Linked DNA regions of Homo sapiens. The protein of the gene in region 2 interacts with the protein of the main gene of each other region in a pairwise test. Each region holds a gene or a part of one and is shown on either strand. Other genes may lie near its edges.

The links. Proteins that work in one complex are often made in the same cells at the same time.
Region 1: the proteins of SLC10A1 (region 2) and MS4A1 interact in binary tests that used the Homo sapiens proteins (3 or more experiments, as listed by UniProt).
Region 3: the proteins of SLC10A1 (region 2) and SLC7A3 interact in binary tests that used the Homo sapiens proteins (3 or more experiments, as listed by UniProt).
Region 4: the proteins of SLC10A1 (region 2) and ATP13A1 interact in a two-hybrid assay, tested with the Homo sapiens proteins (one large-scale study listed by BioGRID).

What each region holds. Positions count from the first base shown.
Region 1 is NC_000011.10:60,465,788-60,468,973, forward strand, and holds part of MS4A1 (B-lymphocyte antigen CD20), read left to right. Parts: intron 1-133; coding exon 134-370; intron 371-1,171; coding exon 1,172-1,273; intron 1,274-2,462; coding exon 2,463-2,681; 3' UTR 2,682-3,186. UniProt on the Homo sapiens protein: B-lymphocyte-specific membrane protein that plays a role in the regulation of cellular calcium influx necessary for the development, differentiation, and activation of B-lymphocytes.
Region 2 is NC_000014.9:69,777,196-69,780,341, reverse strand, and holds part of SLC10A1 (hepatic sodium/bile acid cotransporter), read left to right. Parts: intron 1-981; coding exon 982-1,160; intron 1,161-1,812; coding exon 1,813-2,009; intron 2,010-3,146. UniProt on the Homo sapiens protein: As a major transporter of conjugated bile salts from plasma into the hepatocyte, it plays a key role in the enterohepatic circulation of bile salts necessary for the solubilization and absorption of dietary fat and fat-soluble vitamins.
Region 3 is NC_000023.11:70,924,655-70,928,155, reverse strand, and holds the end of SLC7A3 (cationic amino acid transporter 3), read left to right. Parts: coding exon 1-11; intron 12-135; coding exon 136-358; intron 359-532; coding exon 533-672; intron 673-771; coding exon 772-874; intron 875-1,114; coding exon 1,115-1,281; intron 1,282-1,462; coding exon 1,463-1,629; intron 1,630-1,977; coding exon 1,978-2,086; intron 2,087-2,212; coding exon 2,213-2,343; 3' UTR 2,344-2,577; downstream 2,578-3,501. UniProt on the Homo sapiens protein: Uniporter that mediates the uptake of cationic L-amino acids such as L-arginine, L-lysine and L-ornithine. The transport is sodium ions- and pH-independent, moderately trans-stimulated and is mediated by passive diffusion.
Region 4 is NC_000019.10:19,649,753-19,653,735, forward strand, and holds part of ATP13A1 (endoplasmic reticulum transmembrane helix translocase), read right to left. Parts: intron 2,969-3,983; coding exon 2,843-2,968; intron 2,046-2,842; coding exon 1,937-2,045; intron 189-1,936; coding exon 1-188. UniProt on the Homo sapiens protein: Endoplasmic reticulum translocase required to remove mitochondrial transmembrane proteins mistargeted to the endoplasmic reticulum.

The DNA.
Region 1 (3,186 bases), on a different chromosome or scaffold from region 2:
AACTGAGAGAACTTCAGTATATTTAGTTGTAGTTGCTTTGTGAGTCAGGGCAGTTGCATTTGGAATTCCCTCCCAGATTATGTTTTCCAAAGGGAAATCAAACCCAATTAATAAATCTGTGTCTCCATTTCAGGTCAAAGGAAAAATGATAATGAATTCATTGAGCCTCTTTGCTGCCATTTCTGGAATGATTCTTTCAATCATGGACATACTTAATATTAAAATTTCCCATTTTTTAAAAATGGAGAGTCTGAATTTTATTAGAGCTCACACACCATATATTAACATATACAACTGTGAACCAGCTAATCCCTCTGAGAAAAACTCCCCATCTACCCAATACTGTTACAGCATACAATCTCTGTTCTTGGTAAGTGTTCTTGGTAAGTGTGAGATTGGATTTCTCTCCAGGGAGGAAGGATGACTTGTTTATTATGAGCATGAACTCTGGATCCAGACCACCTGAGTTTGCTAGTTACTGTCTGTGTGGCTTTGGGAAAGAATTTTAACCACACTGTGCCTCAATTTCTTCAACTGTAAAATGGGGATGGTAACACTATTTATCTAATAGGGTTGTTCTGAGGAATAAATAAGTTAATATATACAAAGCATTTAGAACAGTGTTTGGTACACAGAAGTGCTATATAAGCATTGGCTTTAACATTAATTATTCTCAACATCATTAATGGCATTAATATTTACCATTATATTAACTAAGATGAGCATAGAAGAAATTCCTAAGATGTTATGAATATCTTTTGCCCAAGGACTTTTAAATGTAGAGTTTGAAAGAGATAAAAAAAAATGCATCTCCCAAGGATGAAGAGGTCTCCTAGGCATGATGCCACACCAACTAAGGCTGAATACAATTTAATTTGAGACTCATTACTTATTCTTTCCTATACAGAATTGATTCTTCAACTGATTATTCATACCTTACTTTCTATCAGCAATACACATTAACCATCTGTTGTGTGCCAAAAGTTGTGTTAAGAGTTAGGGTTATAAAGATGCTGTCTCCTGTACTAGCAGTTCTCACAGCTATTCATTACTTGTCTAAAGAATTGATCTCTTAATCGTTCAATTATAGTCAACAATAACTTACTGAACACCAACAATGTTCTTTGTGCCATTATTACATTTTCACCTTCATTCTTCTGTTGTTTTTCAGGGCATTTTGTCAGTGATGCTGATCTTTGCCTTCTTCCAGGAACTTGTAATAGCTGGCATCGTTGAGAATGAATGGAAAAGAACGTGCTCCAGACCCAAATCTGTAAGTAGTAGCCCCTCTGGCCAAAACCTCCCTCTAGAAAATCCACATCCACAAAGGATCATTTATGGAGAATGTAATCTGATGAGTTGTTGAAACTAGGAGCTTGATTTAAAAAAAAAAATTGGTCTTGGCATATTTCTAGAAAGCAAATAATATGATGTCTTGAAATTTGAAATAAGTCTGTAGTTAGAGCCTACAGTTCTATATTCTGTGCGTCTTTTTTTTTTTTTTTTTTGAGACAGAGTCTCACTTTGTTGCCCAGGCTAGAGTGCAATGGCGCGATCTTGGCCCAGTGCAACCTCTGCCTCCGGGTTCAGGCGATTCTCCTGCCTCACCCTCCCGAGTAGCTGGGATTACAGGCACCCGCCATCATGCCTGGCCAATTTTTGTATTTTTGTAGAGACGGGGGTTCACCATGTTGGCCAGGCCAGTCTTGAACTCCCGACCTCAGGTGATCCTCCCACCTCAGCCTCCGAAAGTGCTGGGATTGCAGGCGTGAGCCACCATGCCCCACCTCTGTGCATCTTCTTATTAACCTTCCCTGCTGCTTGACTTCAGGCTTCCATCCTGATTTCATGATTCCATATACAGTGTGTAAAAGCAAGATGGTTGAAGGTTGAAGGCTAAGTCACTAGTTCTTTGGTTTCATTTTTCAGTATTCCCCTCTTCCCTCCTTTTCACCTAATTCCTCTTCCAAAACAACAGGTTAAAGGGCTCCACAAATGGGAAATAAAAACAGACCAATAATAGATATATTACTAACTGCTTCAGAACCAGACTGTTAGATTTAGAATTTAGAAATCATCGCTAATTACTTCATTTTGCATTTAAAGAAAAATAGTATCAAAGAGAGAAAATTATTCTCCCAGAGTTATATTCACTAAAGGCAAATCAGAACGAAAATCTAAACTCCTCTATTACTGCAATGTTCTTTTCCCAATACCACGTGGTCATTCCAGGCACTGTGGTCAATGTCTGCTGCCCTTGAAGATTTATTCAGACTTGAGTTTTAATAAATGACTTGATAAGGATATAAGCACCTGCAAAAAAATTTTGGCATTTAAAGGCATATAATAAATGACATAAGTAGCATAAAAACCAGGAGGTATTTGATAAATGTTTGTGGAGATTGTTGACAAAGGTGTCAGTGGTAAAAGTAAAGAATGGTTTGTTTAATTTTCTGTTTTAGAACATAGTTCTCCTGTCAGCAGAAGAAAAAAAAGAACAGACTATTGAAATAAAAGAAGAAGTGGTTGGGCTAACTGAAACATCTTCCCAACCAAAGAATGAAGAAGACATTGAAATTATTCCAATCCAAGAAGAGGAAGAAGAAGAAACAGAGACGAACTTTCCAGAACCTCCCCAAGATCAGGAATCCTCACCAATAGAAAATGACAGCTCTCCTTAAGTGATTTCTTCTGTTTTCTGTTTCCTTTTTTAAACATTAGTGTTCATAGCTTCCAAGAGACATGCTGACTTTCATTTCTTGAGGTACTCTGCACATACGCACCACATCTCTATCTGGCCTTTGCATGGAGTGACCATAGCTCCTTCTCTCTTACATTGAATGTAGAGAATGTAGCCATTGTAGCAGCTTGTGTTGTCACGCTTCTTCTTTTGAGCAACTTTCTTACACTGAAGAAAGGCAGAATGAGTGCTTCAGAATGTGATTTCCTACTAACCTGTTCCTTGGATAGGCTTTTTAGTATAGTATTTTTTTTTGTCATTTTCTCCATCAACAACCAGGGAGACTGCACCTGATGGAAAAGATATATGACTGCTTCATGACATTCCTAAACTATCTTTTTTTTATTCCACATCTACGTTTTTGGTGGAGTCCCTTTTGCATCATTGTTTTAAGGATGATAAAAAAAAATAACAACTAGGGACAATACAGAACCCATTCCATTTAT
Region 2 (3,146 bases):
CACATACCTGTTTATCATTTTGGAGGACGCAATTCTCTAAAATGCACACTGGAAAGTACAAAGTGCATGGAGTGCACATGCACTTTGAAAGGTTGCATCCTATGTTGCACAATGAAAAACCCTATAATTTCATTCAGAGTAGACCTGCATAGTTTCCAATGATGTTGTTATCACCCAAGATATTTCTGAAAGTTCTTTTGGGAACTTCCTTCATATTCAATTTGCAGGTCACTCAAGAAAGTAGGTTTGTCCCCTTATTATTAGACATCATTTTGGGTTTAAAACCGTATTTCCGGGCTTGATCATCCACCTTGTTTACCAGCTTTGTTTCAAATGACTCTTGGCAATTTCCAGAATTGATCCTAAAATGGATAAAATCCCTATCTGTAATCAAGGTATTTGAGACAAATATGTATGACAAGTTCTCATGAGTTTCAAAGTATGTGGAACAATGACAGTATTGTAGGAATGTGTATATAAGTTCCAAAAATACTTGACTTTTAAATAATATCCATTTTGCAGGAGTCCTGAATAGCCTCACGTAACACTTCACTGAAAGTCTGCTATCCAGAGATGTGTCAAAAGCAGTAACTGTGCTTGGCTGAGTTTGTAATAATCAAAGTGTTAATCAGCTGTCCCCAAGCTTCCTAGCTACTGATACGAAATCTAAAAAGATGGGCTGGGTGCAGTGGCTCACACCTGTAATCCCAGCACTTTGGAAGGCCAAGGCAGGAGGACCGCTAAGAGTCCAGGAGTAAGACCAGCCTGGGCAACATAGTAAGACCCTGTCTCTAATGTTAATAATTTTAAAAAAATTTAAAGAAAGGAATCCAAAAAGAAGATAAAGGTCTTTCATATTCCTTTCCACTTCCAGTGTTTTATTGCAATGTTTCCCACCTCCAATTTCTACCTGTGCTTCCCCACCTCTGTTCCTCTCTATCCCCAACTCTTCTAATTGCCTTTTCTTGTCTTCATTCCCAGGGAGGGATGATCATCATTCTCTTGTGCAGTGTGGCCGTCACAGTTCTCTCTGCCATCAATGTGGGGAAGAGCATCATGTTTGCCATGACACCACTCTTGATTGCCACCTCCTCCCTGATGCCTTTTATTGGCTTTCTGCTGGGTTATGTTCTCTCTGCTCTCTTCTGCCTCAATGGACGGTAGGTATTTTTTTTTTTTTTAAGAAAGGGTCTCACTCTGTTGCCCAGGCTGGAGGGGAGTAGCACATTCTCAGCTCACTGCAGCCTCAACCTCCAGGGTTTAACTGATCCTCCTGCCTCAGCCCCCCAAGTAACTGGGACTATAGGCACAAGCCACCATGACCAGCTGATTTAACTTTTCTGGAGACAGGGTTTTACCATGTTGCCCAGGCTAGTTTTGAACTAATGAGCTCAAGTGATCCACCTGCCTCAGCCTTCCAAAGTGCTAGGATTACAGGTGTGAGCCACTGCATGCCTGGAGATAGGTATTATTTTAGGTCCCACTGTCCCATGGGCTTCATTCTTGTCCTAGTCTTTCAGGAAACGAATAAGAAGCTAGGAACCTGAAATCTGGGCAAGACACTTTCCTGGCAATATGTTCAGATGCACTAACTGGACAAGAGACTTTAGACTTGAAAAAAATTGAATGAAGGTATTGAACGGGTTAAAAATCCAGACACCAAAGGTATCCAAACACCAGCAGCAATAGCAAAGTACCCCTGTCCAGGGTCTAGATTCCATCTGCTGCGAAACTCTTTGGTAGCAGCACTGGGACAAAGTTGCTCCCTCCAGTTCCCTCTGAGTGTATGTGGGGTTTTCTTCACCGGCACAGGTGCAGACGCACTGTCAGCATGGAGACTGGATGCCAAAATGTCCAACTCTGTTCCACCATCCTCAATGTGGCCTTTCCACCTGAAGTCATTGGACCACTTTTCTTCTTTCCCCTCCTCTACATGATTTTCCAGCTTGGAGAAGGGCTTCTCCTCATTGCCATATTTTGGTGCTATGAGAAATTCAAGACTCCCAAGGGTGAGTACTGAAATTATCCCCACTTCAAGTTCTGCTCCAATATTAGACCTGAGCCTGCCAACAAGCAAGTTTCTAGCAGGGACTTTTTGGATAGGGCTTTAACTCTTATCAAGTCACTAAGAACCAGGTAGCCCCAAGAAGCACCCAAGAAGCATTAAAGATCCAAGACTACTTCCATCAACTGCACTCCATTTCTTCCTTCTAGCTGGGAGAATGAAATTGCAGATGCAGTTTACCTCATAAAACTGAAGCAATTTGGGCTGCTTTGTCTCAGTGGGGAGACATCATAGGACAAAACTGCCTTGGACAACTGAGGTTATTAGTTGTGTGAAAGGCCTCTATTCGCAAGAGTTGGGGAAGTTTCCATTTCTCAGGACTAGGTTCTCATTTCCTGGAACCAGATCAGAGCCACAGCACCACTGGCACCTCCGTATGAGGAAAAACATATGAAAGCAATGCACCCTAATATAACCCAGAATAAAGAAAAAAAAAAAAGATTCCTCAACTCTAGTTACGCAGTAAAGGAAACTTAAGCATACGGTTGTTAAACAGTAACTACCTCCACAATAAACTTAATATGATTTATACTTTACTCTGATCACTATGGGGTTAACATAGCATCTCTTCTCTAAAATGCTCAGAGTATTACCTTTCAAAATAAAATTGAACCTCAAGACAGACCAGAGAACAGAGTGCCTTCCTCAAAGTGCACTTTAACACCAATTTTAAAAAAAAAAAAAAAAAAAAAAAAAAACAGGACATTCAAACCCACTTTATAACACATTTCATTATAACTCTCAACATTAGTATATTCTTCCTAAGTACCTACCCAAATCCTTCAACTGTCCCTTCATGTCCATGAATTGAAGTCCCCTTCAAAACCTTTCTAGACCCTAGGGACTGTGATTTACACCCTAGGAGAAATACACAACTTTCCCTATTGGAATTTGTTACATTATACTAGCAAGCAAATGCCGATTCTCTCTCCCTTTGCAATTAGCTAAGATGTAATTAGGTTGCCAAGCAGCCAACACGAAACAAGTACAGGCTGACCATACACTAGAACCATTTTAGAAGCTTTGGTTCAAAGCTACAGTAGAGTTGTGAGAAAGAATCTACTCTGATGCTTATCTGAGA
Region 3 (3,501 bases), on a different chromosome or scaffold from region 2:
TGCTACCACTGGTAACACAGTCATTCCATTCTGTTTGGGGCTTGGGCACAGTGTGTGCCCAGGCTGTATGCAGACTGGGGGTGGTAGAGGAGTGGGCCTGCTTCCCTAATTTAGAACCTTACGCCCTTCCTTCAGGAGAAGAAGCCCAGAATCCCCAGCGTTCCATCCCGATGGGCATTGTGATCTCACTGTCTGTCTGCTTTTTGGCGTATTTTGCTGTCTCTTCTGCACTCACCCTGATGATGCCTTACTACCAGCTTCAGCCTGAGAGCCCTTTGCCTGAGGCATTTCTCTACATTGGATGGGCTCCTGCCCGCTATGTTGTGGCTGTTGGCTCCCTCTGTGCTCTTTCTACCAGGTCAGTATCAAATGTTTGTTTTCTTCTGCTGTCAGAGTCTCAGGTTATAGCATTCAGTACCAGAGAATACCCCTTAAAAGGGCTGTGAGGGGAAAGTGGAGACTCTTTAAACATACAGTCTTGGGAAGAGAGATCCCAGTCAACTCATGCCACCCTGGGCATTCTCCTCTCCAGCCTCCTGGGCTCCATGTTCCCCATGCCTCGGGTGATCTACGCGATGGCAGAGGATGGCCTCCTGTTCCGTGTACTTGCTCGGATCCACACCGGCACACGCACCCCAATCATAGCCACCGTGGTCTCTGGCATTATTGCAGGTAACAGACCCTCTTTCCCCTTCCCTTAGTTGTTTCGCCAACTTCTTTAACTTTGCCACTCCCTTCTCTCATTTCTTGTTTCCTGCCTATTAATTTTAGCATTCATGGCATTCCTCTTCAAACTCACTGATCTTGTGGACCTCATGTCAATTGGGACCCTGCTTGCTTACTCCCTGGTGTCGATTTGTGTTCTCATCCTCAGGTGAGACTCTTCCTCTGCATACTGTGATTTGGATTTTTATTCTTGGATGAGGAATGATGGAGATCTGCTCCTCTTTCCTCCTTCGCCTTCATTATTCCAACTTTCTTTGAGGAATCTGGGTATCTCACCCTGCCAAAAAGAACTTCCCTTAATGGTGATGAGGAAGGTTAAGCTGCCTGGGAGAAGATGATAAAGTGAGTAAAGGTTGTTCTTAATACTGCCATCTTACTTTTGCCTCAGGTATCAACCTGATCAGGAGACAAAGACTGGGGAAGAAGTGGAGTTGCAGGAGGAGGCAATAACTACTGAATCAGAGAAGTTGACCCTATGGGGACTATTTTTCCCACTCAACTCCATCCCCACTCCACTCTCTGGCCAAATTGTCTATGTTTGTTCCTCATTGCTTGGTGAGCAGTGGAATTTTTCTGGGGTGGCTCTGAGATCAGCGTGATTGGGTCGAAGTGTGTGGCATTTGGTGGCTGAGGAAGAACTAGAGAGAGAGCGACTCTCCTTGGAACAGGGTTTCTAATGTCTTAGCATGTTGGTCTTAAGAGTTGGTTTTGATGTCTCTCAACTTGACCTTTGAAGCTGTCCTGCTGACTGCTCTTTGCCTGGTGCTGGCCCAGTGGTCAGTTCCATTGCTTTCTGGAGACCTGCTGTGGACTGCAGTGGTTGTGCTGCTCCTGCTGCTCATTATTGGGATCATTGTGGTCATCTGGAGACAGCCACAGAGTTCCACTCCCCTTCACTTTAAGGTAAATGAACTCTGTCTTTTTTCCTTGCCAGCCCATCTTGGGAGAATAGGCTCCAGATATCTTGAGGTCTAATAAAGTTCATAGATATTCTTTAATTGAACATGAAAGGGAAGATATAGGAGGTACCTAGGCCAAAGACTTCTTCTCTGACCCTCTTTAGTTCCTTTCCAGTTCCATTTACCCAAACTGCATATTCTTGGAGTCTCATGAGGTATGCTAAATGAGCAGCTACTGAAATGCAGAGGACAAGTAAGAGTTGGACTCACCCTTTTCTGGCCTGCATAGGATAGGGATCTCTTTCTAGGTCAACCTGTGGTATGTACAAAGAAGATTTTACTTTGTTTTCAGGTGCCTGCTTTGCCTCTCCTCCCACTAATGAGCATCTTTGTGAATATTTACCTTATGATGCAGATGACAGCTGGTACCTGGGCCCGATTTGGGGTCTGGATGCTGATTGGTAGGTATCCACTTGGGAAGAGTAGGCTTCTTTGGTGTCCTAGCCCAGCTCCTTTCCCTCTTGGTCTCAAGTAGGAAACCTATGAAGCCTTTACACCCCCACCTCACAGCTACCTTTCCCCACTAGGCTTTGCTATCTACTTCGGCTATGGGATCCAGCACAGCCTGGAAGAGATTAAGAGTAACCAACCCTCACGCAAGTCTAGAGCCAAAACTGTAGACCTTGATCCCGGCACTCTCTATGTCCACTCAGTTTGACATCGTCACACCTAAATGCTGTCTGGTCCCCTGCACAATAATGGAGAGTACTCCTGACCCCAGTGACAGCTAGCCCTCCCCTGTGATGGTGGTGGTGGATACTAATACAGTTCTGTACGATGTGAAGGATGTGTCTTTGCTATTTCTTGTCTATTTTAACCCGTCTGCTTCTAAATGATGTCTAGCTGCTTACCAACTTTAAAAAATGATATTAAAAGAAAGTAGAAAAATAAACTGTGTCCTGTTTTTTGCTTGCTAAAGATGTAGAGCCTGACTTTTAAGAGTGAAGAGCCTCAGAGAAGTGTCCTTTGTGTTTTCTTCAGTTACCACAAAAGCATCTGCTGTGCCTGTGGGTGCTTCTTGTTGAATCAGGGTTTGAGGAGGGTGGTGTAAGTAGGTAGCCATCCAGTCCAGTCACACTTAAAGGAATGGTCTTGAGATATGTTTTCCCCTCATTACACTTAAGGTTAGGTTCTGGATAAGTAGACAGCAACACTTGTCTCTGGGATTTGGGGTGGACTCTGATAGCAACACTGACATTGGTTAGGGCCTACACTGAAACTATTGGCTTCTGTTCCACCTCTTCTAGTTGGACCAGTCCCACACTCCTGTAACTGCCTGAGCATCAGAAATTTTGGCTGCGGTGTTTGGCACTGCTGGGAGGAGGGGTGGATAGTCAGGGGGTTTGGTAAGGGACCACATATATTAATATATGGATACTGTTTGCTGCAGAAGTAGTAGGAAAATAGAGGTCAGAGCTCTGCTCAGAACGAGAACTATTCATTCATCCATTTATTCAACAAACATAGGTGAAGCTCCTATAAAACGTTAGGTCCTGTGGTGGGTGCTGGGGATACAAATGTGAATAAAACATAATCCCCACCCTTAAGGAACTCACAATCTTGTGGAGGAGACAAGCAGGTAAATATGACTACAAAACAGTGTGATTTGTACCAGGGCAGTGCAGAGTGCTGTGGAAGCACAAAGAAGGACATGCTTGAACTGAGTCTGCAGTAGATGCTTAAGAAGTGGACTGAGGGAAGGGCTTGGCTGTCAGTGTACAGTGTGCAAGAAACCACGGAAGTATGAAAAAACATTCAAATTGTGTTTGGGGTGTGGCATACAGTTTAATGTAGCTGGAGGGTAGCACATATGCAG
Region 4 (3,983 bases), on a different chromosome or scaffold from region 2:
AGCCACACGGGCGAACACCTGCACATGGGGGATGAGGCGGAGCAGCTGCTGGGGGTCGGTGGCCTGCAGGTGGGCCAAGCCGTCGCCTGTGAGGCACAGTGCGTACTCCAGGGCCAGTGCCTTTGGGGAGCCCCGGGCCAGGGGCAGCACGATGCTGCCGTCAATGGAGCGCCACTCGCACTGCCGGCCTGCGGGCAGCACCTAGGGTTAGGGCTGGGGGCTTGGCTGACCGGGCTCAGAAGCACCCTCCCTCCACTCGGACCCCAGCACCAGCCAGTCTCTCCTCTCTGGAGCCCGCACCTCCCTACCCACCCAGGTGACCCCCAGCCCTTCTCTGGGGACTCCACAAAGAATGTCCCTCAGGTGCACAGGGTGGAACCAAGAGCCTGGGGCCTGAGCTACTTGCCTGAGAGCCCGGGACACAGCCAGATTAGAACCTGGGCAGTCTGACCCCAGCTAAGCCATGCCCCCACCTCATGCAAGGCCCCCTAACCTGAAACACACAGAAGGGGGCTATTGCGCTCTCCTTGGGAAACCCCACACCAGGCCCTCACCTCATTTATCCCTGCGCCCGTGGCCTCTCTGAAATCCTGTTTTCTCGGGGCTGGGCCCCCTCCCAACTCTGACAGGGCCCCTGAGTTCTCAACATCTTCTTGCTCCACTTCCCCTTTCTTGCTGGCTGGCCCTGGCTTGGATGCTGGGCGCTGAGGATGGCCAAGGGCGGCCCGCCAGCCCTCCTGGCACTGCCTGCTCACCCTGGACCATCTCAAGCTGAAGGGCAGCACACTTCCACCTGGCTTGTGCTGCAGCTGTTGCTAGACCAGCTTCGCTTGTCAATCAACAGTTCTGCTCATCCGCTCCATGCCACCTGCCCACAATCCCCAGGCCCTGGAAGACCCCGGTAGCTGGGGCTGGGACAGGGGGAGGCCTGCGACCAATAGAACAGAGGGAGGGCAGGGACCGAGTCCTCTGAGAGGTGGCCTGGAGGTTCCGGAAGCTGCTCTGGCCCAGACCTGTGAATGTTTGCTGCCAGCAGCCCTGTGGCAACACTGCTCCATGTGGTTCTTCTTAGGGCCCTGTCAACACTCATGCAGGTCCTGAACTGCGTGCGCCCACAGGGGCTTCACCTCTAGCTCTGGGGCAGGTATCTGGTAAGCCCCACACCTCTAGCTGGGAGGGGCTGGGTCTCTATGTCTGCCTCTTCATCAATCTGAATCCAGGGCATTGCTCAAAGAGGTCACTGGGGAGAGGTTGGAGCCTTGAGCTCTGGAATCAGGCTGTCTGGATTCCAATCCTTAGCCATGGATTGGAAGTGACCTGGGCAAGTGGGTTCACTTCTGAGCCTCTGTCCCTTCTCTACAAAGCAGGGCCCCGAGAGCTGACCCAGCCAGCTTCCTCCTCTGTGGTGTGGGGAAGGCAAGCCACCCCGTGTGGTGCAGGATGGGGTGGAGGGACCAACGCAGTAACACGCACGGAGCGCTCCGCCTGGGGTCTGGTCAGGCTGAGCACTGGGCAAACTGCCATCAACTGTGGCTGAGGATGCCAGCAGTCCCTGTGCTCGGGAAGGGAGCACTCGGTACATGGGCAGCTTGCCGGGCCAAAGAGGGTGTGAAATGAGGATGACACTGAGGATGGGGAGTAAGCGTGGTAGGAGCAGTATCTGCCCATGAGTGCACAGGAAACCCGAGCTGGCAGTCAGACTATCGCCTCATTATGGTAAATAAACACCTACATGCCGCACATCCTGGGACCTGCGACCCAGTGAACGCTCACATGCTGTCCGAGGTGCCCAGTGGGCCAGGGCTGTGATTAGTGGTGCCAGGCATTTGAAGACACTGTGCTGCTGAGGCCTGGTACACAGGTGGGCTGTTGCGATGGGAGCTGTTCTTGGACTCAGGGTCCCCCTTCCCCACTGTGGGCCAGGCTAGGGCCTCACCTTTCTCGGAGGGAGGCTGCAGGATCAGCGTGTGGGCCTTTTCAATGAAGTGCAGCTCCTGGGCCACGTGGCATGCAGTGAGCGGGTTGTCTCCCGTGATCATGACCACCTTGGGTAAAGAGGGGCAGAGGCTCAGCATGGCACCCTGGGGCCAAGCTCTAGGCCAGAGACAAGGCTGCCAAGTCTCCTTCTAAGGTAGGCCACAGTGGGAGATCCTGGGCCTCTAACCGAGATGCTGAATGGGCTTCCAAGGGCCACAACCCACCCCCACCCAGGTCATTTTACACAAATGACACGTGTATGTGCGTCCTTCTGAAGACACCCTTAGCTTGGATTTGCAATACAAATGAACAACCTGCCCCTGAGGTGGACCCTTTTGGCTTGGTAGCTGCCCATGGGGGTAATATTTCAGCAAAGAGGAGGATGGGACCATGACCTCTGGGCTTGGTGGGGACTAATCACATCACCCATGTGACCCAGAGCCATCATCCTCTGAGACGGCTCACTCACCCCTTACACCCTAAAAGACACCCTAAGTCCCAAAATAGAAAACACAAGCCACCAGAAGCCACCAGGACAGGCAGACAGTGCCCCCCACCCAACTCCCCAGCCTCAGCTTCCTTCTCTCCAGGACGGCGGTGGAACGGGGAAGTGGAGAGAAGTGCCCCCATCTTCCCATGATGCGGGGAGTGAAGGGAGTGGTCTGTGGAGGAGAGAGGAGCCAGCACAGGCGGGTCCCAGAGTGTCCTTGGGCCAGTGGCAATGTTAGCACCTGAGCTATGATCTTGCTCAGCTAAAACATGCAGCCTGTGAGACTTGGGTGCCCACCCCTACCACGAAGCTGTAATTGTCATCTCCTCGCCTCTATTTCCCATGCAGAGGGTGGAGCCGAGCACCGTCCCATACCCGGTGGGACGCATTCTGGATCTCCCGGATCACGGCCTTGGAGTCAGCCTTGAGCGGGCAGGAGACCACAATGAAGCCGACGAACTTGAGGCTGCACTCCAGGGCCTCCCGCTTGACCTCCCGGGCCTGCGGACAGACAGGGGCACCCTCACCATCTGTCCCTCCCTCTGCCCACACTCTGCATTTCCTGAGCTCTGACCATGCGCTGGGAGCCAAGGGGACAATGGAAGGCCCTGTTCCCGTAGTGGGCACATGCGAGGGTTGGGAGGGGAGAAATGCCAGGAGGGTACCAGGCACGCTTGAGGGGTGGGATCTGGCAGTGACTGGGGGGTCTGGGTCCCCCGAATGTGGCTCTATGTCCTGCTTGCGGACATGGGCACATCACAGAGTCCCTTGTGGCTCAGCTTCCAAGTCAATGAAGTAGGGACTCTCCCAATAATGTTGGAGTTTAGCCAGGAACTCTTACTCACTGGGGCTCCACCACATACCACAGACTGGGCACAGACCCCTGGCCTTAGGGAGCTCACACTGCACCAGGGGAGACGCATGATCAAGAAAGTCACAGAAATCGGAGTGCTGAGTGCCATGAGAGAGGAGGTGAGAATGGAATCCAGAGAGGGTGGAAAGGCCTCAGAAGTGGCCACTATGAAGGCGATGAGGACCTGTGTCACTGGGAAGGGGGCTCCAGGTGCAGGAACGGGGCAGAGCATGCAGGCTGTGAGCTGTGGCCTGGGCTCTGCACACAGTACTGCAACCTGAGGCTAAATTCTGGAAGGATCCGCAGCTGTAGGGTGCAAGCAGAAAGAACGAGAGCCCAGGAAGAAGCCAAGCGGCAGATGTGCCGGTGGTGGAGGCGGAGGGTGGGCTTTGTGGAGGATGGATGGGTGAGAGGGCTGAGGATGCCACCTAGCCCTGCCCAAGACCAGGGCAAAAGAGTAGAGCTAGGGACACACCAGGACTGGGGCAGGTAAGCCCTGCGTGTGCTCTGCGTGAGCCAGGACTGGGTGGGTCCCCACAGCAGTGGACAGACTGAGTGCCATTTGGAGTCTCCAAAGGTAGAAGCTGGAGGCGGGGCAAGGAGGACAAAATCACAACCATTCAACCTGGCACTGTGGGACACAGGAGGTGACTCAGGGAGGAG